4 linked regions of the Homo sapiens genome follow. Each later gene encodes a partner of the first gene's protein in a complex. Each region holds a gene or a part of one and is shown in the gene's direction. Other genes may lie near its edges.

Region 1 (7,566 bases):
GAAATTAAGTTACAACAGCTTAATTTTTGTTGATATTAGTATTTGGCTGGTGTATTTGCCCCATCATTTCACTTTCAAACTTCTTGTGTCCCTGTGTTTTAGGGATGTCCCTTAAAAATAGCTAGATTTCAGTGGGGCACAGTGACTCACGCCTGTAATCCCAGCACTTTGGGAGCCCGAGGTGGGCAGATCGTTTTAGCTCAGGAGTTTGAGACCAGTCTGGGCTGCCTCTACAAAAAATACAAAAATTAGCCGGGTGTGGTGGTGAGTGCCTTTAGTCCCAGCTGTTTGGGAGGCTGAAGTGGGAGGAAAAAGAAAAAGAAAAAGAAAAAGAAAAAGAAAAAGAAAAAGAAAAAGAAAAAGAAAAAGAAAAGATCTTGTTTTTACCAAAGGAGCACTGTAGACAGGAAGGAGACAAGTAGATTGGTTTGGCATAAACAGCCTTAGCATAAAATGCAGAAGTTATCAAGTAGCTTATTCTAAAGAACTTTTCTTCATTTTAAATCTCAAAAAACCCTTTGCATTCATTCTTTAATTATTTTGTTATTTTGTCTTGTTTTGCTTTTATGTGCTTCCTTTTTGGTCCCATTATTTGTCTTCACTGAGATGGTAAGTTATAAGATTGCTTGACCTTACAGTAACCTAAAATCAACCTATCATTCCATGCATCAGACTGTCAACATTGAAACTACCCAATCCCTGGCCTCCACCACAGACCTCAGTCCCTGAATAGCACATTGGTATCCATGAGCTTGTGAGATCACCAGGGAAAAATCCCCCCAGCTGCTGAGATAATACCAGATGCTGATAGCAAAGAGCAGGCAAGCCAACAACAAGGATGCAGAAGATTTAATAGCTTTGCAATCTTATAGATCAAAAAGCCAATTAGCTCTGAGTAATTCCTAAAGGAGTCATCATACCATGTAAAAATAGTTCTGCAGTTTCTGGAAGAAGGGAAAACCAGGCCTCAAAGGGCATCATTGCACTCAGGTCATACCACAAGTGTGACATACTGATTACTATGCATACTGCACAGTTCAATGTTTGGAAGAAGAAATCACTGTGATACGTGGCAAGGTAAGCCACAGTACAGGAGAATACTGTAGCTCAGTGGTTCTCAAAAGGGGACTGTTTTGCCCTCCAGGAGACATTTAGCAATGTCTGGAAACGGTTGTAATAACTGGTGTGGGTGTGTGTGTGTGTGTGTGTGTGTGTGTGTGTATGGGGGCTGCTACTGACATCTAGTGAGTCAAGGCCAGAGATGTTGCTAAACATTCTACAATGCAGAGGACCCCTGCCCCCTGGCCCCCATCCCCCCTATCCCCACAAAAAATTATCTGACCCAGGTTGAAAGTCCTTGCTGTAGACTACACAGAGAAGTATACATAAGTAGCAAGATAGTGCTTCTTGTATCACAGAAGCCGTCTTGTAATAATGACTTCAAAGTTTTCCAGGAAGGATGATGGTACATGAAGATTCACTGTATCATTCTGTTTGCTTTGTATACATTTTAAATTGTCCATAATAAGGAAACATGAAAAGATTAGAGGGCACTTCTATATTTGATCCTCCTCAAAACGGCAGAAGGTTTTTACAAGCAGAAATCACTGAAGTTAATAGGTGGATATTTTCTAGTGGGTGGCTTTAGAATTTCAAAGTGAGACAGGACACTAGAAGACTAGATACAGCTGGTGAAAAACAATCATAAACAATGGAGCATTTTCCCAGAACCAGTTCTGAATACAGCACATAACTTAAATAGTTTTTCAATGCAAATGAACCTGGTTCATTTGACAAAACTTGCCATATTTAGAAGATACTAGCTCTAAAGTTCATATGTGGGGTAGGATTTCTTCATTTGGATTGTCTGTATTTTCTGCCAAACGTGTGTTTTTTTTTTTTTTAATTTTTTTATTATACTTTAAGTTATAGGGTACACGTGCACAACGTGCAGGTTTGTTACATATGTATACATGGGCCATGTTGGTGTGTTGCACCCATTAACTCGTCATTTACATTAGGTATATATCCTAATGCTATCGCCCCCCACCCCACAACAGACCCCGGTGTGTGATGTTCCCCTTCCTGTGTCCAAGTGTTCTCATTGTTCAATTCCCACCTATGAATGAGAACATGAGGTGTTTGGTTTTTTGTCCTTGTGATAGTTTGCTGAGAATGATGGTTTCCAGCTTCATCCATGTCCCTACAGAGGACATGAACTCATCATTTTTTATGGCTGCATAGTATTCCATGGTGTATATGTGCCACATTTTCTTTCTTTCTTTTTTTTTTTTTTTCTGTCAAGTCTGCTTTATTTAAGTCAATATTAGACCTGCTGTTCCTAAACAGAAATGCCCTGATGACAGAGGAGTGGGAGGGAAGCAGGCTCATGTGAGGGTGTGGGAAGGCCACTTGGCCCAAAATGTTTGCAAGAAATACACCAGGAAAAGCCTATTTTAATTCTCCTGCATTAGGAACTGCCCTGTGAGATTCCTGCAAAATAATCCTCCAGGCTCAGGACTATTCCTCTTCTCTTGTGCTAGACACATCTCTCTTCTGGAAAGTTTTCCTTCCTTTTTTTTTTTTTTTTTTCTGTTGACTTTTTTTTTTTTTTTTATTGATCATTCTTGGGTGTTTCTCGCAGAGGGGGATTTGGCAGGGTCATAGGACAATAGTGGAGGGAAGGTCAGCAGATAAACAAGTGAACAAAGATCTCTGGTTTTCCTAGGCAGAGGACCCTGCGGCCTTCTGCAGTGTTTGTGTCCCTGGGTACTTGAGACTAGGGAGTGGTAATGACTCTTAACGAGCCTGCCGCCTTCAAGCATCTGTTTAACAAAGCCCATCTTGCACCGCCCTTAATCCATTTAACCCTGAGTGGACACAGCACATGTTTCAGAGAGCGCAGGGTTGGGGGTAAGGTCATAGATCAACAGGATCCCAAGGCAGAAGAATTTTTCTTAGTACAGAACAAAATGAAAAGTCTCCCATGTCTACCTCTTTCTACACAGACACAGCAACCATCCGATTTCTCAATCTTTTCCCCACCTTTCCCCCTTTTCTATTCCACAAAACCGCCATTGTCATCATGGCCCGTTCTCAATGAGCTGTTGGGTACACCTCCCAGACCGGGTGGTGGCCGGGCAGAGGGGCTCCTCACTTCCCAGTAGCGGCGGCCGGGCAGAGGCGCCCGTCACCTCCCGGACGGGGCGGCCGGCCGGGCGGGGGGCCGACCCCCCCACCTCCCTCCCGGACGGGGCGGCCGGCCGGGCGGAGACGCTCTTCACCTCTCAGACGGGGCGGCTGCCGGGCGGAGGGTCTCCTCACTTCTCAGACGGGGCGGCCGGGCAGAGACGCTCTTCACCTCCCAGACGGGGTCGCGGCCGGGCAGAGGCGCTCCTCACATCCCAGACGGGGCGGCGGGGCAGAGGCACTCCCCACATCTCAGACGATGGGCGGCCAGGCAGAGACGCTCCTCACTTCATCCCAGACGATGGGCAGCCGGGCAGAGACGCTCCTCACTTCCTAGACAGGATGGCGGCCGGGCAGAGACGCTCCTCACTTTCCAGACTGGGCAGCCAGGCAGAGGGGCTCCTCACATCCCAGACGATGGGCGGCCAGGCAGAGAGGCTCCTCACTTCCCAGACGGGGTGGCGGCCGGGCAAAGGCTGCAATCTCGGCACTTTGGGAGGCCAAGGCAGGCGGCTGGGAGGTGGAGGTTGCAGCGAGCCGAGATCACGCCACTGCACCCCAGCCTGGGCACCATTGAGCACTGAGTGAACGAGACTCCGTCTGCAATCCCGGCACCTCGGGAGGCCGAGGCTGGCGGATCACTCGCGGTTAGGAGCTGGAGACCAGCCCGGCCAACACAGCGAAACCCCGTCTCCACCAAAAAAATACGAAAAACAGTCAGGCGTGGCGGCGCGCACCTGCAATCGCAGGCACTCGGCAGGCTGAGGCAGGAGAATCAGGCAGGGAGGTTGCAGTGAGCCGAGATGGCAGTACAGTCCAGCTTTGGCTCGGCATCAGAGGGAGACTGTGGAAAGAGAGGGAGAGGGAGACCGTGGGGAGAGGGAGACGGGAGAGGGAGACGGGAGAGGGAGAGGGAGAAGGAGAGGGACCCGATTATTTTCTTTTATCTCAGCAGTCAGCAGGGCGTAATGTAATTTATTTGCTTATATTTATGGCTTTCCCAAAGACTATTATTTCTCTATTCCCAGTGTCTAGCACATATTAGGTGCTTGAAAAATGCGTGTTTGTATTAGTGGTTAGGGGTAGATATTACGGAAGAAGATGAAGTCTACTTGTTGGCCTGTGGATGGCATTTCTCTGTTCTAATGGGAAGTAAGGCCGAAGACTTCGGAGGGCGCAACCCGTGTAGTAACCTCGCAAAGGGGCCCGCGAGTCTCCACGTCGTTGGCTGCCTTGCCTCGGGTTTCCGCTGGGTGGAGAGGAAAGTGGGGCGGGAAATCGAAAAACGAACTCTCAGCTCCCGGCATTCCTCGTGGGCGGTGCTCCCCTTTGACCCTTCGCTCGCGTGCTACACATCCGGGCTTCTGCTACTAGTGAGAGGAAGATGGCGGCCGCGGCTGTGGTGGTTCCCGCAGAGTGGATAAAGAACTGGGAGAAATCAGGGAGAGGCGAATTGTGAGTGTTCGGGCCGGAGGCAGGCGCACTGCCGGGCCGGGCCAGGGCGTCAGCTGCACTCTCACCTGTAGTGGGAGGTTGAGGGGGAAAGATGTACCCCCTCCCCCACCCGGGCGGCGGGCGTGGATGGTCGTCTAGGAGTTTCGAACTCGGGGAGAGGTGCTGTTTACCGCCGCGGACCTCCTTCCTTCCCTGGCCTCCCAGAAATCGCTACTGCCTGCGGTAGCTCGGCTTCCTTTAGCCTCTTAGTAGAACTCTTATTCCGCCCCTGCAGGTCTCCGCGCTCCCTCTTGGTCTCTTTTTGTGTCCCCCTCTTCGCTTGATCTCACTTGGCTCCTTTATCTTTATGGGGCTGAGCCGGGGCAATTCGGACTTTCCATCTCTCTCTGTGCCATTTCTTCACTCTGCACCCGTTGGACTCCGCAGTTTGGAGCTTGGCGCCTCCTCTGCCTGAAGTCCAAGGAGGGCGAACCGTCCCGGATTCCCCTCCCCTCCTCTTCGCCCGCTGCCGCGAAGCCCGGGGCGCCGCGAAGAACCCGGTTTGGCACCTCTCGCCCTCCCGGGGAGCGGTCTCTCGACTGTCCCGGCCTCGCGTAGCGCCGTGGGGAAGTGTGGCAGGGATTGCCGCTTTCCCTGAAGAACCACCGACATTTCTTTGCTCCGTCTTTTCACCTTAGAGCTATTTCGGGTTGGATTCAACTTTCGTCATTAAATGTTCCCTAAACCCCATTTTATCCTGGGACTGCAACTAATTCTGGCAGCTCTCCAAGCTTCTCCAGTACCTAGGATAACGCGTTTCCTTTAGTCGTGAAACTTTCCCCCGTAACACCGAAAACAGTAATTTGCCATACCCCTAGTCTTCTCGCCCCCACGTTAGAGCGCTCCCTCCTCCCCTTCCCCTGGAAGGAGTCGTTTAAGCAGCAAAGCAAACCTCAGATATAAGAACAAATATTAATAACATCTCATTTCCTTCTCTGGGTCGCTTTTAGATGCTAAAGCTCAACCCTGGATGAAATTAACCCTCGTTAGCCATTTTTGTCGTCCTTGCCCACCCCTCTCCATTTCTAGTAGCCAGTTTACCGTGGCTCATGCTAAAGATTCAAATCTTTGTAACTTCGTTACTTGGAACGAAACACGAGGAACGCGTTGCCGGATCCCGCGCTTGTAATAGTGCCAGCCTATGTGGCTTCCTCCCCCGCACCCCCCGCACTGCTGTATGAAGTCTTAACAGTGTGAGCTCTAGAATTCCCTAAATAAGCGGCTGTCTTAGCCACTTAAGTAGCTGAGTGACCTTGGGTAAGTTCCTTAACCACTTGGACTGTTTCCCCTTGAGTAAATTGGGAATAATAAGTACTCTACTCAAAGGATTGTTGTGAAGACTAAATAATGCCTGTAAAGCACTTGGCTTATAGTAAGTGCTCAAGTGATAGCTATTAAAAGTAATATTATTCCAACCTTTAGATATTTAAACTTCTCAGGACAGCTCATGCACTTAAAGTCTGTACCACTCAGGTTAGCAATTAATTGGTCTCTGACTTATTCATGTGTGTTTATTCTTGCACTGTAATGAATTGGGAGGCCTTTGAAATATAGGGACTATGTCTCATATTTCTTTTGGTTTAACACATGCCCCGCCCCCCCAGCCTATGCTTAGAATGCTTATTGGTTTATTAATTGTCAGAGAAGGCTATTTGATAAATCTTCGTTTTTAACTATAATGAACATTTTACAAATCCTCGTATGTGCTAGTTAACAAATAGCTGTCAAGTTTGATAGCTAGTTGACAAATAGCCATCAAGTTTGGGGAAGGCAAGATGGGAAGTTACCCAGCCAGACCATCATCTTCATCGATATTAGGGTAATCCCCCAAAACTGATAAAAGCAGTTCATTGTTTTGTTTACTTTCAAAGCCAGCTCATTTATTTAGGGGCTGTTATGTTTGTAGATTGCTCAGCTTCCTCCTTTCAGCTACTGTTTTTTGACAGTTTTACTTTTTTTTTTCCCCCTTGAGACGGAGTCTCGCTCTGTCGCCCAGGCTGGAGTGCAGTGGCGCGATCTCGGCTCACCGTAACCTCCGCCTCCCACGTTCAAGCGATTCTCCTGTCTCAGCCTCCTGAGTAGCTGGGACTACAGGCGCGTGCTACCACGCCCGGCTAATTTTTTGTATTTTTACTAGACACGGAGTTTCACCGTGTTATCCAGGATGGTCTCCATCTCCTGACCTGGTGATCCGCCCACCTCGGCCTCCCAACAGTTTTACTATTATTGCTGCCACCTTAGCATGAGTGGTATTAGGGCTATAAGGTGAAATTCTGCTTGGCTTCTGACTGGTAATGGTTTGAGAAAAAGTGATGTAGGAGATCGAAATACTTAGATAAAATGGAATTTTAGGTTCACATTATGTATATTTACATAATACATGCTATCTGTCATAGTTCTTATGTTTGAAGAGCTGCTTAAAAACTGTTATTAGAAGCCGAGCGTGGTGGCTCACGCCTGTAATCCCAGCAAATTGGGAGGCCGAGGCGGGTGGATCACCTGAGGTCAGGAGTTCCAGACAAGCCTGACCAACATGGAGAAACCCCATCTCTACTAAAAGTACAAAATTTGCCGAGCGTGGTGGCACATGCCTGTAATCCCAGCTACTCAGGAGGCTGAGGCGGGAGAATCGCTTGAATCTGGGAGGCGGAAGTTGCGGTGAGCGGAGATCGCGCTGTTGCACTCCAGCATGGGTAACAAGAGCGAAACTCTTTAAAAAAAAAAAAAAAACAAAAACCCAAACAAAAACAAACCAAAAACAACAGCAAAAAAACCTGTTATTAGAACTTACGTGTATGTAGTTATTGCATGACTTGTGGAATGTGGATTGAATTATAGTAGATCCAAATCAGTATAGTCAGTTTTATGATTGCATTCTGTTAC
Region 2 (6,285 bases), on another chromosome or scaffold:
ACTTATTGTTGAATCATAAGTGGTAGCTCCCTTCCATTGTCTAGGACTTTAATGAGTAAGCCCGGAAGAAAGCTCTGGTCTTCTTTCTAGGATAGTGCAATAAACTTGTGGAAGATTATGAGCAAACAGATTATCTTGCTGATTATGTCTGGGTTCCCAGGGGAGAACATTAATATCTGCTGGAGTCCTGATGGGCAGACCATTGCTGTAGGCAACAAGGATGATGTGGTGACCTTTATTGATGCCAAGACACACCGTTCCAAAGCAGAAGAGCAGTTCAAGTTCGAGGTCAACGAAATCTCCTGGAACAATGACAATAATATGTTCTTCCTGACAAATGGCAATGGTTGTATCAACATCCTCAGGTGAGGGGGTCTAGCTTAGGGGACTGTCATGTCTTTGTGCTGGGTGCTGTGTCAGATATGGAGATGAATTAGATGTGAGCCTATCCTGAAGGAGCTTAAAACACAAATAGTAAGAGAGAATCCTAACCTGTCTTAAGTACATTTGAGCTGTATATTTTATATACTTTATATTTTACTGAGTCCTTACAGAAATTCTAGGGGTTGATGATTTGCTTCTCATTTGACAGATGAGGATCTGAGGGTGAGAGGTTACATCAGTAGTCAGCTAGTGTGTGCTAGAACTGGATGCACCTTGAATTATGGCTAATTCGTACTCCCTTTTTTTTTGTTTTTCGAGACAGAGTTTTGCTCTTGTTGCCCAGGCTGCAGTGCAATGGTGTGATCTTGGCTCACCGCAACCTCTGCCTCCGAGGTTAAGCGATTCTCCTGCCTCAGCCTCCCAAGTAGCTGGGATTAGAGGCATGTGCCACCACACCTGGCTAATTTTGTATTTTTTGTAGTTTAGGGTTTCTCCATGTTGGTCAGGCTGGTCTCCAACTCCCGACCTCAGGTGATTAGCCCGACCTCTGGCTAATTCGTACTCTTAAAGTTTCAACTGAAATATCACTTTGCCTTCAGGGAAGCTCCCCCGCTACCCCAAGGTTAGAGGTAGGTTAGAGGCGTATTTTATATACTTTCTGTAGGAAGCACTTTTCTTTCTATATTGTAATTGCATGTTTATTTGCCTGTGTCTCCTGTTAGACTGTGAATTCCTTGATGGTAGGGATGGTGTTTGCCTTGTTTAGTGTTGAGTCCCTAATGTCTAGTCCTGTACCTGCTCCACGTAGTAGGATCTTAGTAAATATTTGTTCTGTAAATGAATGAAACTGTGGAGCTGAAATTCAGGTCTGTTCAATTCTAGCCTTCCACTATCCCAGGTGAACAATGCAAGACCAAGTGAGATAGGTTCTGTGAGTGGGAGGCCAGGAGTTTGCTGTGAAATTCCACGGAAAGAACAGACATACTATATGGGGGGTTGAAGGAGGGAGCTTGTGAGCTTGATCTTGAAAGATGAGCAGAATTTTAAGAATAAGCAAAAGGGAACCACATAACTGACAAAGCAGGTGTGAGTGAGCATGACTTACTTGGAGAGTGGTTAGGTCAGGGTTGTTGGGGGAGTGGTGGCAGATAAGGGAAATAAGAGAGGGCATGATAATGGGAAGATGAAGTCTAATTTGGGACCAGATTATAAAAGGCCTTTATTTTATGCTTAGTATCTTGGGTTTTATTTTGTAGGCAATGGGGATTCTATAACTTTTTAAGAAAAATCTTTTTATTATAAAACACAGATATTGAAAACCACATAAAATAAATGTATAGCTTAATGAACTCTTATAGGCTTAACTCTTGTGCAACCCCGCCCAAGTTGAGAAGTAGTTCTTTCCAGCCATCCCAGAAGTCCATCCAGGTGATTTGTCCTAATTACAACTTCCTTCCACAAAAGCAAACACTATCCTGACTTTTATAGTGTTTCTTCATAGTTTATCTACCACATGTGCAGCCCCTAGATACCCTAGTTTTGCTCATTAAAAAAAAAAAAAATTGATATGTCTTTTGTATCTCTTAAATTACTCAAAAGAAACTTCCGAAAACGTAGCTGTTGAAAAACCAGACTGTTAACCTGTGGAGATTCTCCCAGTTTGGCTTTTGCTGATTCCATATGCTGTTTATGTGTTGGACTGTTGTGTAAAGAGATGCTGCTTCTCATCTGCGATTTGGTTACCCAGTAGTGTAGTTCATGTAGGGAAGGCAGGATAAAATTTTGATTCTGTTTGTCAGATAATGATTTTGTTTCCTGCTACCTCCAAAGATGAGCAGTTAGGTGTTTTTTTTTTAAAGAATCATTACGGGCTGATGTTTTTAAACATAGTTGGTGTGTTTCCATCTCTTGTAATTGTTACGCCTGTTGAAGCTCAAATTATCCCATCTTTGGCCAATAAGAACCTCTTCAAGTTGGTTCCTGAGACCTTTTTTGACATAATCCCATCGTCTTCTGTTTTTTTGCTCTCTGGTTTGATAAGATGTTCCAAGTTCATCTTGTGCATTTCTTGCCCCAGACCTTTAATCAGAACATTCTCCAAGAAGCCTTAACATTCTGGCTGGGTGCGGTGGCTCACGCCTGTAATCCCAGCACTTTGGCACTTTGGGAGGCCGAGGCGAGTGGATCACTTGAGACCTGGCAATCATAGAGAAACCCTGTCTCTACTCAAAATACAAAAATTATCTGGGCGTGGTGACGCACGTGTATATTCCCAGCTGCTTGGCAGACTGAGGCAGGAGAATCGCTTGAACCCGGGAGGCGGAGGTTGTAGTAAGTTTAGATTGCACCACTGCACTCCAGCATTCTGGACGACTGAGTGAGATTCCACCTCAAAAAAAAAAAAAAAAAAGGAGCCTTACATTCTTTTACTGAGAAATGATACTGAAGTTAGGAATGTTCATTACTGCTGGGTTGGCCTAGGAATTACGTGTGTGTGTGTGTGTGTGTGTATATATATATATATTTAAAGATAAAATACCTTATGAATTCATGTTGATAACTTGCAATCAAAATTGAGGACTCCAGGGATTTTACTAAACCTCTTCTATATTACAAATATATTTCTTTCCTCCCAAATTGAGTATTCTGGTTCTCAAGGGCACAGGGGATCATAGAATTAGAATATCCGATGGTTACTTATTACCTATCTCCCATGGTAAACATATAGATGTCTCAGAACAACAATATTACTGCTGCTACCACCAATGTGATGACTTGAAACAAAAAATGTTTTTGGTTTTTGCATATACTCTTTCCATTCTTCCCCCATTAAAAAAATAGTACTATATGTTGTAAGCATGTGCAGATGTTACATATTATACCCTCTCTTTAAACCATGTATAGTTTTTGCAAGAAACTGTATATTCAGTGTTGAGCACCAGTCCTTATAAGTCTCTAGTCATTTTTTTAATTGAAGCTCATTCTCTAGTTAAGATTCCTCGGGAAGCGTTCATGGGAACATTATTCCTGGAGTTTTTATTACAACTTATTTACGTACTTCTAAAACTTACAGATTTTATAAAACGTTATTGTGCTTATTGTTTGTATCATTATATTTGAAATTCAGTTTTGCTGGATGTAAAAATCCTTGGCTCGTTTTCTCGCTTGTGTATCTTTCTTAAATATGGTACTCCATTTTCTTTTGGCATTAAGTGTTGCTGTCAGAAAGCCCAATAATCTAATTTTCTTTTTCTTTAAAGTCCACTAGTTTTGCTAGTCTCTGTCTCGATGTTGGTAACTTTGGTTCTGTAGTCTCAGGTATGTGTTGTGCTTTTTAAATAATGTAGTTCAAAATCTTTTTTTATTTCAGGAATGTTATCTTGAATGACAGTTCTTGGTGGTGGTCTATTATCTTTGCTTTTCTTCTTCATCATCTCCTATTATTGTTTCAGCACCACAGTCCTCTTCTGCAGTTTGATCGCTGTCTTTTTTCTCAGCTACCCAGAACTGAAGCCTGTGCAGTCCATCAACGCCCATCCTTCCAACTGCATCTGTATCAAGTTTGACCCCATGGGGAAGTACTTTGCCACAGGAAGTGCAGATGCTTTGGTCAGCCTCTGGGATGTGGATGAGTTAGTGTGTGTTCGGTGCTTTTCCAGGTAAGTGACTCTATCAGCACTTCCCTTGTTGGGTACATTAATTTTATTTCATCTTGAGTGACATTGTTCCCTCCTCTTACTTGGTAATTCTCTTGTCTCTTCTGTCCACTCTGTATCATAGGCTGGATTGGCCTGTAAGAACCCTCAGTTTCAGCCATGATGGGAAAATGCTGGCGTCAGCATCGGAAGATCATTTTATTGACATTGCTGAAGTGGAGACAGGTAACTTCATGAGAATCTACCGTCTTTCACCTTTGGCAGTCAGGACTTCTCTTGTGATCTCATCTCTGCATGTGACTACTTCACCAGCATGATCATGAATGAATTTGTCTCCTTTAGACAAGTATGTTTCTGTTTTGACTGTCACTGCCAGGTGGTGAGGAAGCAAAGAGTTAAGAAATAAACAGGCAGGTCTGAGGAAAGTGATTTAGAAAAATATTTTGATTTATTTAAACTTTAAACTACAGAGTAGAAGGAAGAAAAAAGCACCACTTGGGGTCCCACTCTCTAAATACCACCTGTTTTAAATGTTGTGATATATTTCTCTTTATCTTTTGCCTGTATATGAACTTGAAAAAATATTATTTAAAATTTGAGGAATTATAAAGTTTTTGCTTTAAAAACAACAGAAGCTGGAAATAGAAAAATGGGAGGAGAGTATTCATTTTGCAAAAGAATTTCCTCAGATTTGTTTTTTAATGTTGCTTTATTGTTTTTGGAAATCTTTGACACTCTTCGTAAAAAGATTAAAACTGTATAGAAAACTTCGAAGAGGAAAGTAAAGAACTTGAAATTCCACTATGTAAAGAATGCATGCCCCTGTTAGTCACGTTGTGGTGAACATTGTCCAGCATCCAGCCATGCAGATCCTTCATGTAACTGCATGTCCCTGTGACGCGGAGACACTTTCCTGCTCAGTGACCTGCTCTTGAGTTAACCCACCTGTGCTCAGAACCGGCTCTGTCCTCCACTGGCTTGTGGGCTCTCTGTGCCTGGGGGTTCTCTGTAAAATGAGGTAATAGTTGTATCTATCTCATGGGATTAGTAGGTGGATTAAACCAGTTAATACTGGTAAGTACTTAATGAATGTGTCCTTCGTTTTGAACGTATTGATTGGTTTCTCTCTATTGTTTTCTGTAGGGGACAAACTATGGGAGGTACAGTGTGAGTCTCCGACCTTCACAGTGGCGTGGCACCCCAAAAGGCCTCTGCTGGCATTTGCCTGTGATGACAAAGACGGCAAATATGACAGCAGCCGGGAAGCCGGAACTGTGAAGCTGTTTGGGCTTCCTAATGATTCTTGAGAGGAGGTTGTAGGGAGAGGAGGCCCCGGCAGAGGTCTTCCTTCATGTGGTTAGTTTGGTCTGTTCTCTCGGAGTTGGTGGGCACCCTAAATATTTGTAAGTTGGTATAAATTGTAAACGTCTCTGGTCAGGCTGCGCATTTCATTCTTTTGCTTTGTCTGTGTATTAGCTCTTTCCATTCTTTGCCCCCAGCATGAGTTAACTCGCGTGGACTCTGCAGTGCGAGTAGTGACCCCACCATACCTTGTCCTCTGGACCTCCTGTCTTCTCTGCTTCTGGGTGCATGGTAGACTTTGTGGCATTTGATACAACTTGGACAATACCTAGTTTGGAGGGAGGGGAATGGAAGGGCATGGAAGTTTTTTTAAATAATTAAAAATATATATATATAATTTTGAGAATTGAGCATTTAATAAACTGACTTTTGTTATTATGGAACTTCTAAGACTTTTAAAATTATTATGTCCTTGAGTTGCAGTTTTGTATTTTTTTTTTTTTTAATTTCAGAAAGAGAATTTAAATGTTATAATTCTGTCATTTAATGTCCCAACCAAGAAGCCTCTGAAATATAGGGACAAAGCTAATTGAATGACCAAACTAAAATTTTGGCTCTGAGCTTCCTGGTGGCAAAGTGAAGAGGGGAGTAAGTCATTTAGCTTTCTTATTGAAAAGAAAAACACTTATTGGTTCCTCATGGAAAGCAAAGCTTTATTAGTTCTTCCCTCTAAAAAAAAGGGCTTATGTTTGGAGGGTTGTTACCTAAGAGCAGTGGTTTTTCATTATATTGTAATTTTGTTTGGTGTTAAAGCAAATATTGAGGCATATAGAAATAGTGTTGGTAGAAAATTTTGGAAAAAGATAAGCAAAAAGAAAAATTACATTCCTAGCACCAAGAGGTAACTGCTATTAGAATTTTGATGTATATCCTTCCAGAAGTT
Region 3 (7,024 bases), on another chromosome or scaffold:
ATTCAGGTAGAGATGTGTGATAGGTTGTCTAGTGTACAAAGCTGGAGACTAGGAACAAGATCTAGGTTGAGAGTATAGTTGTAGGAGTTACCAGTTTATAAATGGTAATTCAAACTGTAGAGTGTATGAAATGAGCTAAAGGGGAGAGTGTAGATTCAGAAGAGAAGAAAATACTGAAATCCCGAAGAAAACCCATGTTTAAGGGAGAATGAAGGGAGAAGAGGAGAAGATTGAAGAGTAACCTGTGAGATTAGAGAAAAACTAGAAAAGCATGCACTCATGGAAGCCAAGCATATCAAGTAGGATGAGGACAGTAAAGAGTGTTCACAGGATTTAACAACAAATAAGTCATTGGTGATCTTGACAAAACACTTTCTTCCCCCGCCCCAAGACCGATTGTTGCTCTGCTGCCCAGGCTGGAGTGCAGTGGCATGGTCTGGACTCATTGCAACCTCCGCCTCCCAGGTTTAAGCTATTCTCCTGCCTCAGCCTCCAGAGTAGCTGGAATTACAGGGCATGCACCACCACGCCCCGCTAATTTTTTTTTTTTTTAAATAGAGACGGGGTTTCACCATGTTGGCCAGGCTGGTCTCGAACTCCTGATCTTGTGATCCGCCCGCCTCAGCCTCCCAAAGTGCTGGGATTACAGGCGTGAACCACCACACCCAGCCGACAAAAACACTTTCAATGGATTAGTGGATGAGGCGGTCAGATGATAGCAGGTTGAGGAGCTGATTGGCAACAGTGCCTATAGTCAATTATTTTAAGAAGCTTTGCTGTTAAAGGGTTAGGTGAGAATGTGGGAGATTTTTGAGGGAGCTTATTTAATGCTTATGGAAAGGAGCTTGGAAAGAATAGGTTGTAGATACAGAAACCAGGGCAGTTAGTTGATGGAACTCAATTGTTAGGGATATTGGGATTCCAGATGGAAGGTAATCCAGATGGAATACCTTTAGCCGTGAAGGAGTTGTGACAGAAGGAAATGAAGTAAACAAAGGTGTAGGTGCAGCTGATTTGTCATTTTGGGGGCCAAGAAATGAAATGCTTTCCAATTTAATTTTTCTTCTCATTGAAGGCAAAAGTAGTTATCTACTGAAAGTGAGAAGGGGTGGTAAAGTAGTATTTTTGCTAAGTGGAAAGGGTTGAAAATCATTACTGTGAAGAGTAGGAGAGAGAATGGCCTTGAAGAATAAAGAAAGATTGCTGATTAAAAACAGATGTTTAAGGTGGTGACAACATACCAGTGGTGCCTTCTGCATAGCTGTGTAATTTGGGGTATTCACTCAGGCACCTCACTTTCAGCTGAGATTGGAATCCTGAGGGTTGGTATAGAGAAGGTGACTAACAGTTGGTTTATTCAAGGTTGCTGTTTGCTCACTAGACATGACAGAAGAAATATGGGACAAGTGTGTTGAAGTTGGCAAGAAAATGGCCGAAGAGATTAACCATGAAGTCTAGACCAGGAGTTGGCAGACTATAGCCTATAGGCCAAATCTGGCCCACCACCTGTGTTGGTTGTTTTTGGTGATTTTGGTTTTTTTTTCCCCCTTACATTTTAGATGTTTAAATACCTACATAATATCCATAATATGTCTCTTAGCCCACATAACCTATTAATAAAAATACTTACTATTTGACACTTCAGGAAAAAGTTTGCTGACCCCTTATCTAGACTAAAATAGGATTATAATAAAATGGGATGGGACTAACAGGCAGAGAATAGACGGGTCAAGGGCCTTAAAGTCTCGGTAAGATCCAAATATTAGGTATATTGGAAGCAACTGAGCGAGAGACCTGGGAAGGATAGAGGTTGTGGTGAGATAGGATTGTGAGTTGAAGACTTCAGATCTGGGGCAGCTGTGAGTGACCCCAGGTCTAGCTGTGGCCACAGTAGTGGGTAGCTGGAGCAGAGATGGGCCTGTCCGTGGAGTTAAGGGCAAGGAACTAACAGCCTGAGTGGAGACAGTCAAGTTGCCCAGGGGCTGGAGGAAGGGAAGGCTGATGGCCGGCCATTCACATTTCCAATTTGGGATAGGAGAGTTAATATAAATAACAATCAAATATATTCAATCCTTAAACGTGAGGGAAACCTGACTGGAAGGCTGATCATTAATTTTTTTTTTTAAGACCTGGAGCCACAGTGTGGAAGGGGTTGCTAGTGAATAGGGAGGCTTGTGCGTGTTAGGTAGCATTAGTAAATGGTACCAACCACGTAAAGCAGAGCCACCAGCACTTGGGACATTGAACCAAAACCAATCTTCGACGCTTCCAGCTGCCTTACTGGCGATTCATTTAGAAGAACGTGGCTTTCCTTTGTTACTGTAGTTTTTGAAGGCAGAACTAGCATGAGTTTGTGGATACAGACTTCAGCCTTCCTTCAGTGTTCCATGCACATAATCAGAATGACCTTCCTTCATCGCCGCAGGTTATTCTTACAGCTGGATGGCAGGGTCGTTGAAGAACTTCCTCATGAGTGACCTTCAAGTCCTTTCTAATCCAGATTCTGTGATAATACAAGTATGATGCAATTTTCACTAAAAGCTAAAAAAAAAAGCCCATCTAATCAGAGATGATCTTCACCTCTAATTTCTTGTTTATTGTCAAGTAATACCTCTGTTGCAGGCACTTTATAGGGCTACAAAAATGAGTGGTCCCCGTTGATATTGTGCTGTTATCCGTATCTTCTTTAGCCATTATTTCTTCATATGTGAGAAAGTAGTAGCCTCAGTTTTACTTTAAAAAAAAATTTTTTTTTTAAATTTAGAGTCTTGCTATGTTGCTCAGACTGATCTCGAACTCCTGAGCTCAAGTGATCCTCCTTCTCAGCTTCCTGAGTAGCTGGGACTATAATAGGCTTTGTGCCACCATGCCCAGCTTACTTTTTTCTATTTCTGCTTTATTTTATCCTCATGTCTGGACCATAGATAGATCATTGTTATCCACCAGCAAGAATGTGTCATGGCATAAAACAGTCAAGAAATCTAAGTGAAACCTTGACTGGGCTGTCTTTGGGCTTGTGCGGTAATGCCTCACATGCAGTGAACTCTCAACAAATGGCTTTTAAATTGAATTGGAATCTTCCATTTCTATATTAGCACATTTTGTACCTTTAGGAAAAACTTGATTTTAATGTGTTGTTTTCGTATGTGTTTGCTTGTTTCTTGAGTAGCTGATGGATTTACAACTGAGTGACAGTAACTTTCGTCGACACATCCTGTTGCAGTATCTCATTTTATTCCAATATCTCAAGGGGCAGGTCAAATTCAAAAGGTAAGATAATATGGGTAGTAAACAATTTGTAAACAGTAGCCAAGAAAAAAAAGGACTTGCTTACGATTTTTCTTATGTATGTGTCCATTTCATGTTAAGGCTGTATCCCTAAAACACATGTATTGCAGCTGATACATTGAAGGCTTTTCGATATTAGGATATTTAAGGAAAAGATGTTAAATATATCTGTCAGTGTGAGTTTTTCCTGCCCAACTCCAGGGCTTGCCAGGAGTTGTCGTCTTTATTAGCAGGTGGAGGTCTCTGCTCCAAAATTCCGTCATTCCCTTCTCACCTCCCTCAGACCTCCTCCAAAGCTGATTTGCAGACTAAGCCAGTAATACATATCTCACAAGGTGTGGAGCTCTGCAGGACATTCAAGCTAAAAGATGCAAAGAAAATTTTTAAGCAAAAAGGAGTTCATTTATTTGGGGTTTCACAAAACCTCATTAGGCTCTCTACTGTCTATCTAAATACTTCCATCCATTTCCTCCTATCCTGTCCATAACTGAAGGTGGAGCCCACTGTTACTTAACGGTATTTGTGTTAAGGACACTGAGCAATGCCGTATTAGTTGTATAATGACTTCACTACCTGCTGGGTTTGAATCCCAGGCTCGTCATTTGCTGGCTGCAGTGCAGCTCTTTCAGACTTGTAATTTTAAGGTAGTAGCACATGGTAAACACTCAAAAAATGTTATTTCTTATCCTTCTATCTATTTTGGAGGTTTGGTATAGCATAGTAGGAAGATGAGGGACTTTGAAGTGAGACGTGGGTTTGAATTAAATCTTTATGGCCTTGGGCAAATCAGTGAGACACGGTAGTCTCTGTTTAATATGTACATGTACTTGTTCCGAGAATTCAATGAATAATGTATGTAAAGTGTTCAGATCCTAGCCATCAATATTTATTGGATGTCTTTAAATCACCTAGTGCATTATGAGAGCTCAGTTAGTGGCAGCTATTAACAATTTGGGTTTGCCTGTTGCCTTTTCTAGGGTTTGGGTGTTTTATTCGTTGTATTTTGAATGAATCTTAATGTAGCATGCCATACTGAATGTGCATCATGTATACACATATCTTAATATCAAATCAGAAGTTTTCGTTTCACACTCAGCTTATTTTAGGAAACATATATTGCTCTGTTCATAGTGAATCTGATTGATTAATTGAATGTTTTATTCCCTGCATATGCTTTTATGTCTTCAGTACCAACCCTCTTGAGGAAGAAGTGCAAGAATTTTCTCTTATAATCCTCTCATTTGTGATTATTCTTGTCTTGGTAATTTTTGACACTATCCACAGTATAGTTACATGTTACATGCCTTGTGTTTTTTAAACCTTAAAGTTGCATATGCATTGCTGTAACTCAAGCATGCTTTCATTGCTTTGTTCCCTAGTTCAAACTATGTTTTAACTGATGAGCAATCACTTTGGATTGAAGATACTACAAAATCAGTTTATCAAGTAAGTTCAACACGCAACAAACCCATGATTGAAAAAATGGAAATTTAGGATTTTCTTTGTTTCAGCCCCAAATAGGAAAATAAGGATAAAGTTAAGCTCAGGTACAAGACCACAAACACTCCTTGGTTCTCTGCCTACAAACCACTCCTATGATGCAGAAAGTTGTTGAAAGCTTAGTATATTCTTTCTAATCACAGCTACTATCTGAAAACCCCCCCGATGGAGAAAGATTTTCAAAGATGGTAGAGGTATGTGTTTTTTATGCTTACATCCTCTTCTTAGCACGAAATAGAACTTCAGAGGATTCCACTAACCAAAATGTAATCGCTTTGTTTTTCCCAGCATATATTAAACACTGAAGAAAACTGGAACTCGTGGAAAAATGAAGGTTGCCCAAGTTTTGTGAAAGAAAGGTAAATACATACTGAAAGAAAGGTAAATACATACTCATCACAAGAACGACGAGAAAGGCTTTTGAAAATGTGCTCCGATATGATTATAGCATGTAAAAATACATGTATATATTTCACATAAAAAATGTAAGTTGAACTTTGTAAGAGTACAACCACTTTGATTTACCTCTGTATTTTTTAAACCTCATAAATTTCTTGTCATTAAATTCCTGGAACAAACATCTTATTATTGAGAAGAATACTGTATATCTACTCCGTGTAATTTGCCATATAATGTGGCATTTTTATCTTATATCTGATAATTGTTCTATCATAATATGAAGTTTTCATTTTTTTTTTTTTTTTGAGAGGGAGTCTCACTCTGTCACCCAGGCTGGAGTGCAGTGGCATGATCTTGGCTCACCGCAGCCTCCGCCTCTTGGGTTCAAGCGATTCTCATGCCTCAGCCTCCTGAGTTGCTGGGATTACAGGCGCCTACCACCATGCCTGGCTAATTTTTGTATTTTTAGTAGAGACAGGCTTTCACCATGTTGGCCAGGCTGGTCTCAAACTCCTGACCTCAGGTGATCCACCTACCTCAGCCTCCCAAAGTGCTGGGATTACAGGCATGAGCCACCATGCCCAGCCAGTTTTCATCTTTTTTAAGAGGAAAACAATAACTAAATTTTCTTTTACGTTAAACATTCTTCTATTTCTGTTATCCATTTGTAATTCAAAAAATAGTGTATGTTTTGTTCACGACAGAACATCAGATACCAAACCTACGAGAATAATTCGGAAGAGAACAGCACCCGAGGACTTCCTAGGGAAAGGACCCACCAAAAAAATTCTGATGGGAAAGTAGGTGAATTTGTCTTCATGTGGGATGTTCTTAGTTATTTTTATATTTTGAAGATGTTACTTTAAGAACTCTCCATCCAAAATATAGTATGAGATTGTGTTTGGTACACACATAGATAGCCAAAGCAAACCGCACTGTCTATACTGCCCATTGTGTGGGTTCATGCACCAGATAAACCTTCATTTTGTCTCCAGCTTCCAAAATCTGTGTCTCTAGGCTGTGCCATTTTTTCCGTTTCAGACAGTAGAATTGTTTAGATTCCAGTTGTTGCAAGGTACCATAATCCTTGAGTTCTCTTACCTTCCAGTTAACTATTCATTGCTTTATATTGTGCTGGAATATTTTTAGAAAAAACTAAAGATTATATCATTATCATTAGTCATGATTAATGATTATATGCTCATATAGAGAATAATTTTAGGTATTTTAAATACCAAAAATTATTGAGAAAAGTAAAACTCATACTGTCAACATCCCCAAATCCACTGTTTACATTGTATTGTTTTTCTGTTCAGTTTCAAGGCACATGAGGATGGTGTCCATAAAAAATGTATTTATTTCTGTGTCTATTTTGTAGTGAGGAGTTAACAAGGCTTTGGAATCTTTGCCCTGATAATATGGAAGCCTGTAAATCAGAGACAAGGCAAGTTGAACATTTTTCAAATGAAGTGTTGCTTTTGTCAAGTGTTGAGTAGAATGGAGCCTTTTCTCAGCTATGATCAGAGCTCAAATGAAATTTAAAAGTTTATTGTGGTTGACTTTTGGCACAGCAGCGTGTAACTTCCCACCATAAAACTCCTCAAAGTGCTGATAAAATAATTTTAGAAATCACAAAAAAATAAAGATTCACAAAAGGAATCAAAACTACAAACAGAAGAGTAAGCCTATGAACTGATACGGTTCTAGGGCAGCAGTACTAATGATTGCCAGCTTTGAGAACCAGGGAACTTGGGTTTTAATAGTCACAAAAGTTCGTTGAACTTGCAAAATGGGCAAGTTTAATAGCAGTCTAGACATAGGTAAAGTAAGAATTAAT
Region 4 (7,882 bases), on another chromosome or scaffold:
ATGTGCTGGGATTACAGGCGTGAGCCACCGCGCCCGGCCTGTTTTGTTTTTTGAGATGGAGGCCCTCTCTGTCGCCCAGTCTGGAGTGCAATGGCGCTATCTCGACTGACTGCAACCTCCGTCTCCCAGGTTCCAGAAATTCTCCTGCCTCAGTCTCCCGAGTAGCTGAGATTACAGGCGCCCACTACCACGCCCGGCTAACTTCTTTCTTTTTTTTATTTTTAGTAAAGACGGGGGTTCACCAAGTTGGCCAGGCTGGTCTCGAGCTCCTGACCTCAGGTTTAATTGTTATACCCCCCGGGCCCTTAACAAAGCTGTAGTGGCCAGGCTAACCTGGGCAACATAGTAAGACCCTGGTCTCTACAAAAAATACAAAAATTAGCCGGACGTGGTGGGGCAGGGCCTGTGGTCCCAGCTACTTGGGAGGCTGAGGTGGGAGGCTCACCTGAGCCCAGAGAGCCGTGATCGTACCACTGCACTCCAGGCTGAGCAAGAGTGAGACGCAATCTCAAGGGGAGGTGGGGGGAAGGAAGCTGCAGTGATCTCTGCATGGATTGGTCGTGTGTCTGATTTCTTTTTATTGTTTGTTTGTTTGTTTATTTATTTATTTATTTATTTATTTATTTATTTGAGACGGACTCTCACTCTGTCGCCCAGGCTGGAGTGTAGTGGCGCGATCTCGGCTCACTGCAACTTCTGCCTCCCGGGTTCAAGAGATTCTCCTGCCTCAGCCTCCTGAGTAGCTCGGATTGCAGGCGCGCGCCACCACGCCCGGCTAATTTTTGTATTTCGAGTAGAGACGGCGTTTCACCACGTTGGTCAGGCTGCTCTCGAACTCCTGACCTCGTAATCCGCCTGCCTCAGACTCCCAAACTGATGGGATTAAAGGCGTGAGCCACCGCGTCCGGCCGTTCGTGTCTGATTTCTATATGTGCTGCCGAAGCGAGCACTCGTGTCTAATTTTTGATTTCCCCACACCACGCACGCTGGACTAGATCACCGGCTGGGCAAGGAAGGGGGTCTGCGTCCCTGCGGGGTCCTGGCAGCTCCCGCGCCAGGACTTTGTTGAATGAATGACTGAACTGAGCGGGCGCCGCGGGGCGGGGCGTCCCGAAGCGGACCTCAAGGCGGGCGGAGGCGAGAGCTCCGCCCCGGAAGGCGGGGGCGGGGGCGGGGCGGCGGCCGTGGGTCCCTGCCGGCCGGCGGCGGGCGCAGACAGCGGCGGGCGCAGGACGTGCACTATGGCTCGGGGCTCGCTGCGCCGGTTGCTGCGGCTCCTCGTGCTGGGGCTCTGGCTGGCGTTGCTGCGCTCCGTGGCCGGGGAGCAAGCGCCAGGTACGCGGGACTCCGGGGTCGGGGAACCCCGGGCCGGGGCTCGGGAGCCGGACTGGGTGTCTGGAGAACAGCGCCGAACTGGGGGAACAGGCGGATGTGGGGATCTGGGGTCAGGTGGCCTTCAAACAGCTCGCTCCCGGCTGTGGGAAGTTCCATCACTCTCCAAGCTTCATTCACAATCCGGGCCTCAGTTTCTCCCACCGTCCAATTGGGGTTGGGGGGGGTCTTCAGTTCCACAAGTCCGAAGTACTTCGAATGGAGAGAGAAAGTGAGTGAGGGCGGGATGTTTAGTCTAGGAAGGGGCACGCCCCCAGCCTGGTCCGTACAGGGTCTAACTAGCCCCAGTGATCGACGAGTTGGGGAGGCCGTCGAGAGGCACTAGGGTCTGTGCCCTCTATACCATGTGGGGTGCCCCCTTCCATCCGGTGACTTCAGTGCCCAGCTATGCGGGGGGAGGGACTGGGGTCGGGCCCGGTGCCCAGGAGTGAGTCACCCGCCGGCGGCAGGGGGGTTGTGGGGACCTGACCCCCCCCACCCCCAGCGTCCCGCGCTACGCCCTCCCTCCCGGAGCTGCCGTGTCCCGGTCGGGCCGTGCGGTCACCTGTGAGGAATGCGCGGGGAGGGCGCCGGTGACTCACGTTATTCGAGCCGGCCGACCCTGACCTCAGACCCCAGAATAGCCGAGTCCCGCCCCCAGCCTCTGACCCGAGGCCCCCTCCCCAGGCACCGCCCCCTGCTCCCGCGGCAGCTCCTGGAGCGCGGACCTGGACAAGTGCATGGACTGCGCGTCTTGCAGGGCGCGACCGCACAGCGACTTCTGCCTGGGCTGTGAGTGGGGGGCAGGGCCAGTGGCCAGCGGACCCCAGACTGGGAGGGAGGGTGGCTGGTGCGCAGAGCGGGGCCGAGAGCTTTGCATCTGGGAAATCATTCGGGAGGAGGTGGGAGCTGGGAGGGGGCTCCGGTCAGGGAGGAGGCCACGTTTGGGAGAAGGCAGAAGGCTCAGTCTTAGGGGGCGGGGCTGGCCTGGAGAGGGGCGAGGTCTGACTCCGAGTCCCGCCCCCAGGCGCTGCAGCACCTCCTGCCCCCTTCCGGCTGCTTTGGCCCATCCTTGGGGGCGCTCTGAGCCTGACCTTCGTGCTGGGGCTGCTTTCTGGCTTTTTGGTCTGGAGACGATGCCGCAGGAGAGAGAAGTTCACCAGTAAGTGTGCCCTGGCCTGCCCAGCCCTGTCAGCACTCGACCTTTTCTCTGCTGCTGACGACCCCACCTCTTATCTTGCAGCCCCCATAGAGGAGACCGGCGGAGAGGGCTGCCCAGCTGTGGCGCTGATCCAGTGACAATGTGCCCCCTGCCAGCCGGGGCTCGCCCACTCATCATTCATTCATCCATTCTAGAGCCAGTCTCTGCCTCCCAGACGCGGCGGGAGCCAAGCTCCTCCAACCACAAGGGGGGTGGGGGGCGGTGAATCACCTCTGAGGCCTGGGCCCAGGGTTCAGGGGAACCTTCCAAGGTGTCTGGTTGCCCTGCCTCTGGCTCCAGAACAGAAAGGGAGCCTCACGCTGGCTCACACAAAACAGCTGACACTGACTAAGGAACTGCAGCATTTGCACAGGGGAGGGGGGTGCCCTCCTTCCTAGAGGCCCTGGGGGCCAGGCTGACTTGGGGGGCAGACTTGACACTAGGCCCCACTCACTCAGATGTCCTGAAATTCCACCACGGGGGTCACCCTGGGGGGTTAGGGACCTATTTTTAACACTAGGGGGCTGGCCCACTAGGAGGGCTGGCCCTAAGATACAGACCCCCCCAACTCCCCAAAGCGGGGAGGAGATATTTATTTTGGGGAGAGTTTGGAGGGGAGGGAGAATTTATTAATAAAAGAATCTTTAACTTTAAATGGTTTGGAGAGGCAGTGATCCCCGACTGACTCCCCTGAGCTGGAGGGAGGGAGTGAGTCAGCCAGCCGCGGGGGCGGGGGTGAGGCTCTGACTCACACATTCTCAATGCCTGGAACTCAGCCGGCAAGGACCTGGCTGGCCCTAACAGTTTTCCAGGGAAGATCTTGAGGAGAAACCCCAGCATCCCGCGCCTCTGCCCTCTCCACCATCCCCAAAAGCCCCAGGTTCCAGACTGAAGCCTTCCTTTGCTCAGCAATCTTTATTCAGTTCTTCTTGGGGGTGGGATGCCTCCCTTCCCATGCTCCCACCCCTCCCATCCCAGAACTCCGTTGGGCTCAGTGTCCTCTGTTGAGGGAAGGTCTTGGTGCCCAGATGCCTACTCTGCAGGAGAGGGAGGAACCTTGTCCCTTTGCGGGAGTCGCTGGTCTCTTCTGTTGTGGGGAAGAAGGAAGGTGGGAGGGGCACTGTCCACCAGCACTCAGAGCTCCATTATGTCCCCAGCTGGGGTTGCAGGGTAGGGGGGACTGGGGGTGTCCCCCAGCCTCAGCAGACGGAGGGCCTCAGGGATGAGGCTGCCAGGATAGCGCCAGAGAAGCAGCTCAGAGCAAGGGCTCCTAGAAGAGGAAATGACTGTCAGGGCATGGAGCTGAGGCTGGCCTAGCTGAGCACCTCCCACCAGGTCCAGGTCCCCAGGGGCTCCTGGGTTCCCAGCACTTTCCAAAGAGCCAAGATGGGAAACAACCCAGAGGTCAGCTAGAGCTAAAAATGGCACGATGAGGCAGGGCCTGAGGTCAGCTGTGAGGACCGCCTGTGATTCTGCAGAAGGCCTGGCCAGTGGAGGAACCTACCTGAGTGGGGGCAGGGCTGGGGAGAAGGTCATGGGGGGGCTGCAGTAGGGGTGGTCATTGTGCAGGCTGAGTTGAGAGAAGTGGGTGGCCATGTTCTCCTCAGACAGAAACTGCTTGCGCAGAGGCTCCCTGGGGAGAGATGGCAGAGAGGCAGGCTGGGATACTGACACAGGAGGCAGCCTGTTGGGGACCAGAGGTGACAGAGATCTTGTTGGGAGTCCCTCCCTGCCCCCAAACTCACTGCTCCTCCTCCAGGCGCCGCTTGGTGCTCATGGGCACAGCTCCTCGGAGAGGGGAGCTGGGAAAAAAAGAGAGCCTGGTGCACCCCACCCTCTTGGCCCCTTCCCAAGGATCTGCCCGCCTAAGCCTGCAGCATCAGCCAGGAGCCCCAAGCCCATTCCTGTCTCAGCTGGTGCCGGTCCCCGCTCTCCTGGACCATCCAGCAGGGTACCTCGGAAGTCTCGACCCTCAGCCGCAGCCCCAGTCCCATCTCAGCTCACGCCTAAGCCCCGCCGATTCGCCCCACCCCGTATTCATCCTGCAGACCAGTCCTGAGCACCCAGCCAAAGCTCCTGCGGCCCTTGGTCAGGCCCACCCTGGTCCCCTACACGCACCTGGCGTCCAGGCCCCAAGTCACCCCCAAGGCGGCCCGCGGGAGGCGCTGGGCCCCTCCCTGGGGGCCTCGCTGCAAGGGCTGCTGCAGGATCATTGGGTTTTGGGGTCCTGCGGGTGGGATCTGGGCGACAGGGGAGGAGTCTCTGAGGGCGTGGCCAAGAGAGGATGGGCGTGGCTTTAGGCGGGCACAGCCGCGAGGTTCTGCGCGGGCGCGGAAGACGGGCGGCGCGTGGCGGAAGGCAGGCTTGCTCCTCGGGGTGGGGGAGGGTATCCGGCTTAAGGGGGCTGCGGTGGACACCACTTCTTAATGTCGGGGGTCTTCGCGGCGCTCACCTCGGCTCCTAGGGTTCGGGACGGTACGCACCAGCCACCTTCGCGCCGAAGGCGGTAGGGCGCCACGGAGAGGAACCGCTCTAGGCACGTAAGGCCTCGTGAGGTTGCGTCGCGCGCGGAGCACTCTGGGACTTGTAGTTCTGGAGATGGAGCGAGCTGTGCCGCTCGCGGTGCCTCTGGGTCAGGTGAGACGGACGTGGTGCGCGTTGCCTTCTGGGGTTTGTAGTTCACGCATGGCTGGGACGGGGCGGGCAGGGAATCGTGCCCTGAGCCCTGTTTTGCCTGGGCTATTTGTGGGACTCAGACTCTGACCAGGGGGGCGGGATAGTAACCCAGAAGTGCTTCAGGGGCTTAACGCAAGTCAGAGAGTAGGAATTATAAATCAGTACGTTTTTCTATGTTGGGGTAGTAGAGGTACTTTTTTTTTTTTTTTAATTTTCTAGTTCTTGCAAAGCACTTTTTTTTTTTTTTTGAGACAGAGTCTCACTCTGTCACCTAGGCTAGAGTGCAGTGGCGCGATCTCAGCTCACTGCAACCTCCGCCTCCCAGGTTCAAGCGATTCTCCTGCCTCAGCCCTCCAAGTAGCTGGGACTATAGGCGTGTGCCACCATGCCCAGCTAATTTTCGTGTTTTTAGTAGAGACAGGGTTTCACCATGTTGACCAGGCTGGTCTCGAACTCCTGACCTCAGGTAATCTGCCTGCCTTGGCTTCTCAAAGTGCTAGGATTACAGGTGTGAGCCACCACGCCCGGCCAAATTTTTTTTTTTTTTTTTTTTTTGAGATGGAATTTCACTCTTGTTGCCCAAGCTGGAGTGCAGTGGCTCCATCTGGGTTCACCGCAACCTCCGCCTCCCAGATTCAAGCAATTCTCCTGCCTCAGCCTCCTGAGTAGCTGAGATTACAGGCATGCGCCACCACTCCCAGCTAATTTTGCATTTTTAGCAGAGACAGGGTTTCTCCATGTTGGTCAGGCTGGTCTTGAACTCCTGACCTCAGGTGGTCCACCTGCCTTGGCCTGCCAAAGTGCTGGGATTACAGGCGTGAGCCACTGCGCCCGGCCCCACATTTTTAAATTTTTTTTGAGACAGAGTCTCACTATGTTGCCCAGGCTGCTCTCAAACTCCTGGCCTCCCAGAGCGCTGGATTACAGGCATGAACCACCACACCCGGCTTAAGCACTGAGTGACAGCCCCATGTAAAGCTCTTGTCTATACACTAGCTCATCTAATTGTGATGGAATCTTCTGTGAGCTCCATTTGTCAGTTGAGGAAGCTGGCAGGAGAGGCCTGGGTGCTTGCTCAGAGGTCCCTGAGGCATCACCTCAACTCTCCCCTTCTTCAGTGTCTTCTTGGAGCCACCCATGGGACTGCATGGGCAGGTGCTGGCTTGGGGCGGGGCCGCCTCAAAAGAAGGCTGAGAAGTCAGGACAGTGGGAGGCCTGGCAGGTTTTGGGGGAAGCAGGGAGGAATCTGTGGATGGGAGGTTTCATACGTCCCAGGCAGGCCTCATCCAGTCTTTCCCTGCAGACAGAGGTGTTCCAGGCCTTGCAGCGGCTCCATATGACCATCTTCTCCCAGAGCGTCTCACCATGTGGGAAGTTTCTGGCGGCTGGCAACAATTACGGGCAGATTGCCATCTTCAGGTACCCTCTGCCGCTGTCCACCCATTAGCCCTGGCACTTGGCCCTCATGGGACGGATGCCCCCGTTTCTGACTCCTGGGTCCCCTCCGCTGTCCCTGCAGCTTGTCCTCTGCTTTGAGCTCAGAAGCCAAAGAGGAAAGTAAGAAGCCGGTGGTGACTTTCCAAGGTGGGTATACCTGTGGAGTCTGGCTTCAGGACTTTGGGTGGGATTGGCTCACTCAGTTCTGCATTTCTCTTTAGCCCATGATGGGCCCGTCTATAGCATGGTTTCCACCGATCGACATCTGCTTAGTGCTGGGGATGGGGAGGTGAAGGCCTGGCTTTGGGCGGAGATGCTCAAGAAGGTAAGGAGTCGAGCTTGGGAAAGGGCTGGGGTGCCTGGACCCAGAGAGAGCCTTTGAGGTCACCTGGTATTTTCTCTTTTGAAGGGCTGTAAGGAGCTGTGGCGTCGTCAGCCTCCATACAGGTGAGCAGGGCCACGTGGATAGAGGGTGCATCAGGGTGAAGCCACTTCCTCACTGACCTTGCCTTTCCTTCCCCAGGACCAGCCTGGAAGTGCCTGAGATCAACGCTTTGCTGCTGGTCCCCAAGGTCTGAGCCCCATGTGACTGTTCTTGGTCCAAACTTTGATCCTTCACCCTCTGCCTATCCTGATTTGACATTGACTTTCTGCCTCATCCTGCTCCTCCACAGGAGAATTCCCTCATCCTGGCTGGGGGAGACTGTCAGTTGCACACTATGGACCTTGAAACTGGGACTTTCACGGTGAGCAGGGTCCTGGAGCCCTAGAGCAGGTCTAGGTCAGGGAGAGGCACTCTTCCTAGGTCTCCTCCTGACATCGCCCCTCTACATGCAGAGGGTCCTCCGGGGCCACACAGACTACATCCACTGCCTGGCACTGCGGGAAAGGAGCCCAGAGGTGCTGTCAGGTGGCGAGGATGGAGCTGTTCGACTTTGGGGTAAGCAGGTGGCTGGTTGGAGGGCAAGATGGCAGTGAAGGAGGCTGAGGCAAGTGGGGCACCACTCACAGTTCTTTCCCCGCAGACCTGCGCACAGCCAAGGAGGTCCAGACGATCGAGGTCTATAAGCACGAGGTGAGGGTGTGACCGTGGCCATTGTCCTCTTCTCCCCCAACTCCTTGAATTCTCCAGGTCTTCACCTCTTTCCCTCCTCCCCTCCCCATCCCAGGAGTGCTCGAGGCCCCACAATGGGCGCT

The links.
Region 2: the proteins of THOC2 (region 1) and THOC3 are in contact, whole or in part, in a cryo-EM structure (PDB 7ZNL), measured with the Homo sapiens proteins. Residues at the interface, in NP_001075019.1 of Homo sapiens: Tyr395, Arg396, Pro401, Lys402, Gly403, Ala404, Lys405, Gly406, Ser407, Pro446, Ile447, Ala450, Arg454, Cys500, Asn501, Ala502, Cys503, Met504, Glu506, Pro563, Arg566, Gln567, Lys570, His573, Tyr603, Leu604, Thr605; in NP_115737.1 of Homo sapiens: Asp193 (codon at 313), Met196 (codon at 322), Ile208 (codon at 358), Val217 (codon at 3,901), Gln218 (codon at 3,904), Asn221 (codon at 3,913), Ala222 (codon at 3,916), Pro224 (codon at 3,922), Ser225 (codon at 3,925), Ala244 (codon at 3,982), Asp245 (codon at 3,985), Ala246 (codon at 3,988), Leu247 (codon at 3,991), Ser249 (codon at 3,997), Trp251 (codon at 4,003), Asp252 (codon at 4,006), Asp254 (codon at 4,012), Glu255 (codon at 4,015), Leu256 (codon at 4,018), Val257 (codon at 4,021), Cys258 (codon at 4,024), Val259 (codon at 4,027), Cys261 (codon at 4,033), Ser263 (codon at 4,039), Leu265 (codon at 4,166), Asp266 (codon at 4,169), Pro268 (codon at 4,175).
Region 3: the proteins of THOC2 (region 1) and THOC1 are in contact, whole or in part, in a cryo-EM structure (PDB 7ZNL), measured with the Homo sapiens proteins. Residues at the interface, in NP_001075019.1 of Homo sapiens: Leu155, Phe156, Tyr157, Lys158, Gln160, Asn163, Leu164, Leu165, Arg166, Asn169, Glu170, Ala173, Lys174, Ile176, Ala177, Gly180, Gln181, Asn195, Lys197, Ser198, Leu199, Ile200, Gly201, Cys202, Phe203, Asn204, Leu205, Pro207, Asn208, Arg209; in NP_005122.2 of Homo sapiens: Asn134, Arg138, Asn141, Leu144, Arg145, Lys149, Thr153, Cys156, Gly157, Gln160, Leu161, Ala164, Arg165, Phe167, Gln242, Phe245, Arg246, Tyr297, Ala299, Lys300, Phe301, Arg319 (codon at 3,206), His320 (codon at 3,209), Leu323 (codon at 3,218), Gln324 (codon at 3,221), Ile327 (codon at 3,230), Tyr331 (codon at 3,242), Arg373 (codon at 4,962), Phe374 (codon at 4,965), Lys376 (codon at 4,971).
Region 4: THOC2 (region 1) and THOC6 share a complex: the UniProt entries of both Homo sapiens proteins name them as parts of the transcription/export (TREX) complex.

The regions. Positions count from the first base shown.
Region 1 is NC_000023.11:123,730,030-123,737,595, reverse strand, and holds the start of THOC2 (THO complex subunit 2), read left to right. Parts: upstream 1-4,543; 5' UTR 4,544-4,573; coding exon 4,574-4,644; intron 4,645-7,566. UniProt on the Homo sapiens protein: Component of the THO subcomplex of the TREX complex which is thought to couple mRNA transcription, processing and nuclear export, and which specifically associates with spliced mRNA and not with unspliced pre-mRNA.
Region 2 is NC_000005.10:175,959,031-175,965,315, reverse strand, and holds the end of THOC3 (THO complex subunit 3), read left to right. Parts: intron 1-160; coding exon 161-365; intron 366-3,881; coding exon 3,882-4,043; intron 4,044-4,164; coding exon 4,165-4,265; coding exon of another isoform or gene 4,266-4,357; exon of another isoform or gene 4,358-5,126; intron 5,127-5,183; coding exon 5,184-5,347; 3' UTR 5,348-5,785; downstream 5,786-6,285. UniProt on the Homo sapiens protein: Component of the THO subcomplex of the TREX complex which is thought to couple mRNA transcription, processing and nuclear export, and which specifically associates with spliced mRNA and not with unspliced pre-mRNA.
Region 3 is NC_000018.10:223,047-230,070, reverse strand, and holds part of THOC1 (THO complex subunit 1), read left to right. Parts: intron 1-3,169; coding exon 3,170-3,270; intron 3,271-4,667; coding exon 4,668-4,734; intron 4,735-4,931; coding exon 4,932-4,982; intron 4,983-5,076; coding exon 5,077-5,147; intron 5,148-5,870; coding exon of another isoform or gene 5,871-5,891; coding exon 5,892-5,987; intron 5,988-6,565; coding exon 6,566-6,631; intron 6,632-7,024. UniProt on the Homo sapiens protein: Component of the THO subcomplex of the TREX complex which is thought to couple mRNA transcription, processing and nuclear export, and which specifically associates with spliced mRNA and not with unspliced pre-mRNA.
Region 4 is NC_000016.10:3,019,157-3,027,038, forward strand, and holds the start of THOC6 (THO complex subunit 6), read left to right. Parts: upstream 1-4,878; 5' UTR 4,879-5,170; coding exon 5,171-5,209; intron 5,210-6,551; coding exon 6,552-6,667; intron 6,668-6,767; coding exon 6,768-6,832; intron 6,833-6,906; coding exon 6,907-7,010; intron 7,011-7,094; coding exon 7,095-7,132; intron 7,133-7,208; coding exon 7,209-7,257; intron 7,258-7,359; coding exon 7,360-7,431; intron 7,432-7,522; coding exon 7,523-7,625; intron 7,626-7,710; coding exon 7,711-7,760; intron 7,761-7,854; coding exon 7,855-7,882. Other genes in the region: TNFRSF12A (tumor necrosis factor receptor superfamily member 12A precursor), read left to right, coding at 1,242-1,335, 2,059-2,163, 2,399-2,533, 2,615-2,670; HCFC1R1 (host cell factor C1 regulator 1), read right to left, coding at 3,707-3,842, 4,077-4,205, 4,318-4,374, 4,691-4,785. UniProt on the Homo sapiens protein: Component of the THO subcomplex of the TREX complex which is thought to couple mRNA transcription, processing and nuclear export, and which specifically associates with spliced mRNA and not with unspliced pre-mRNA.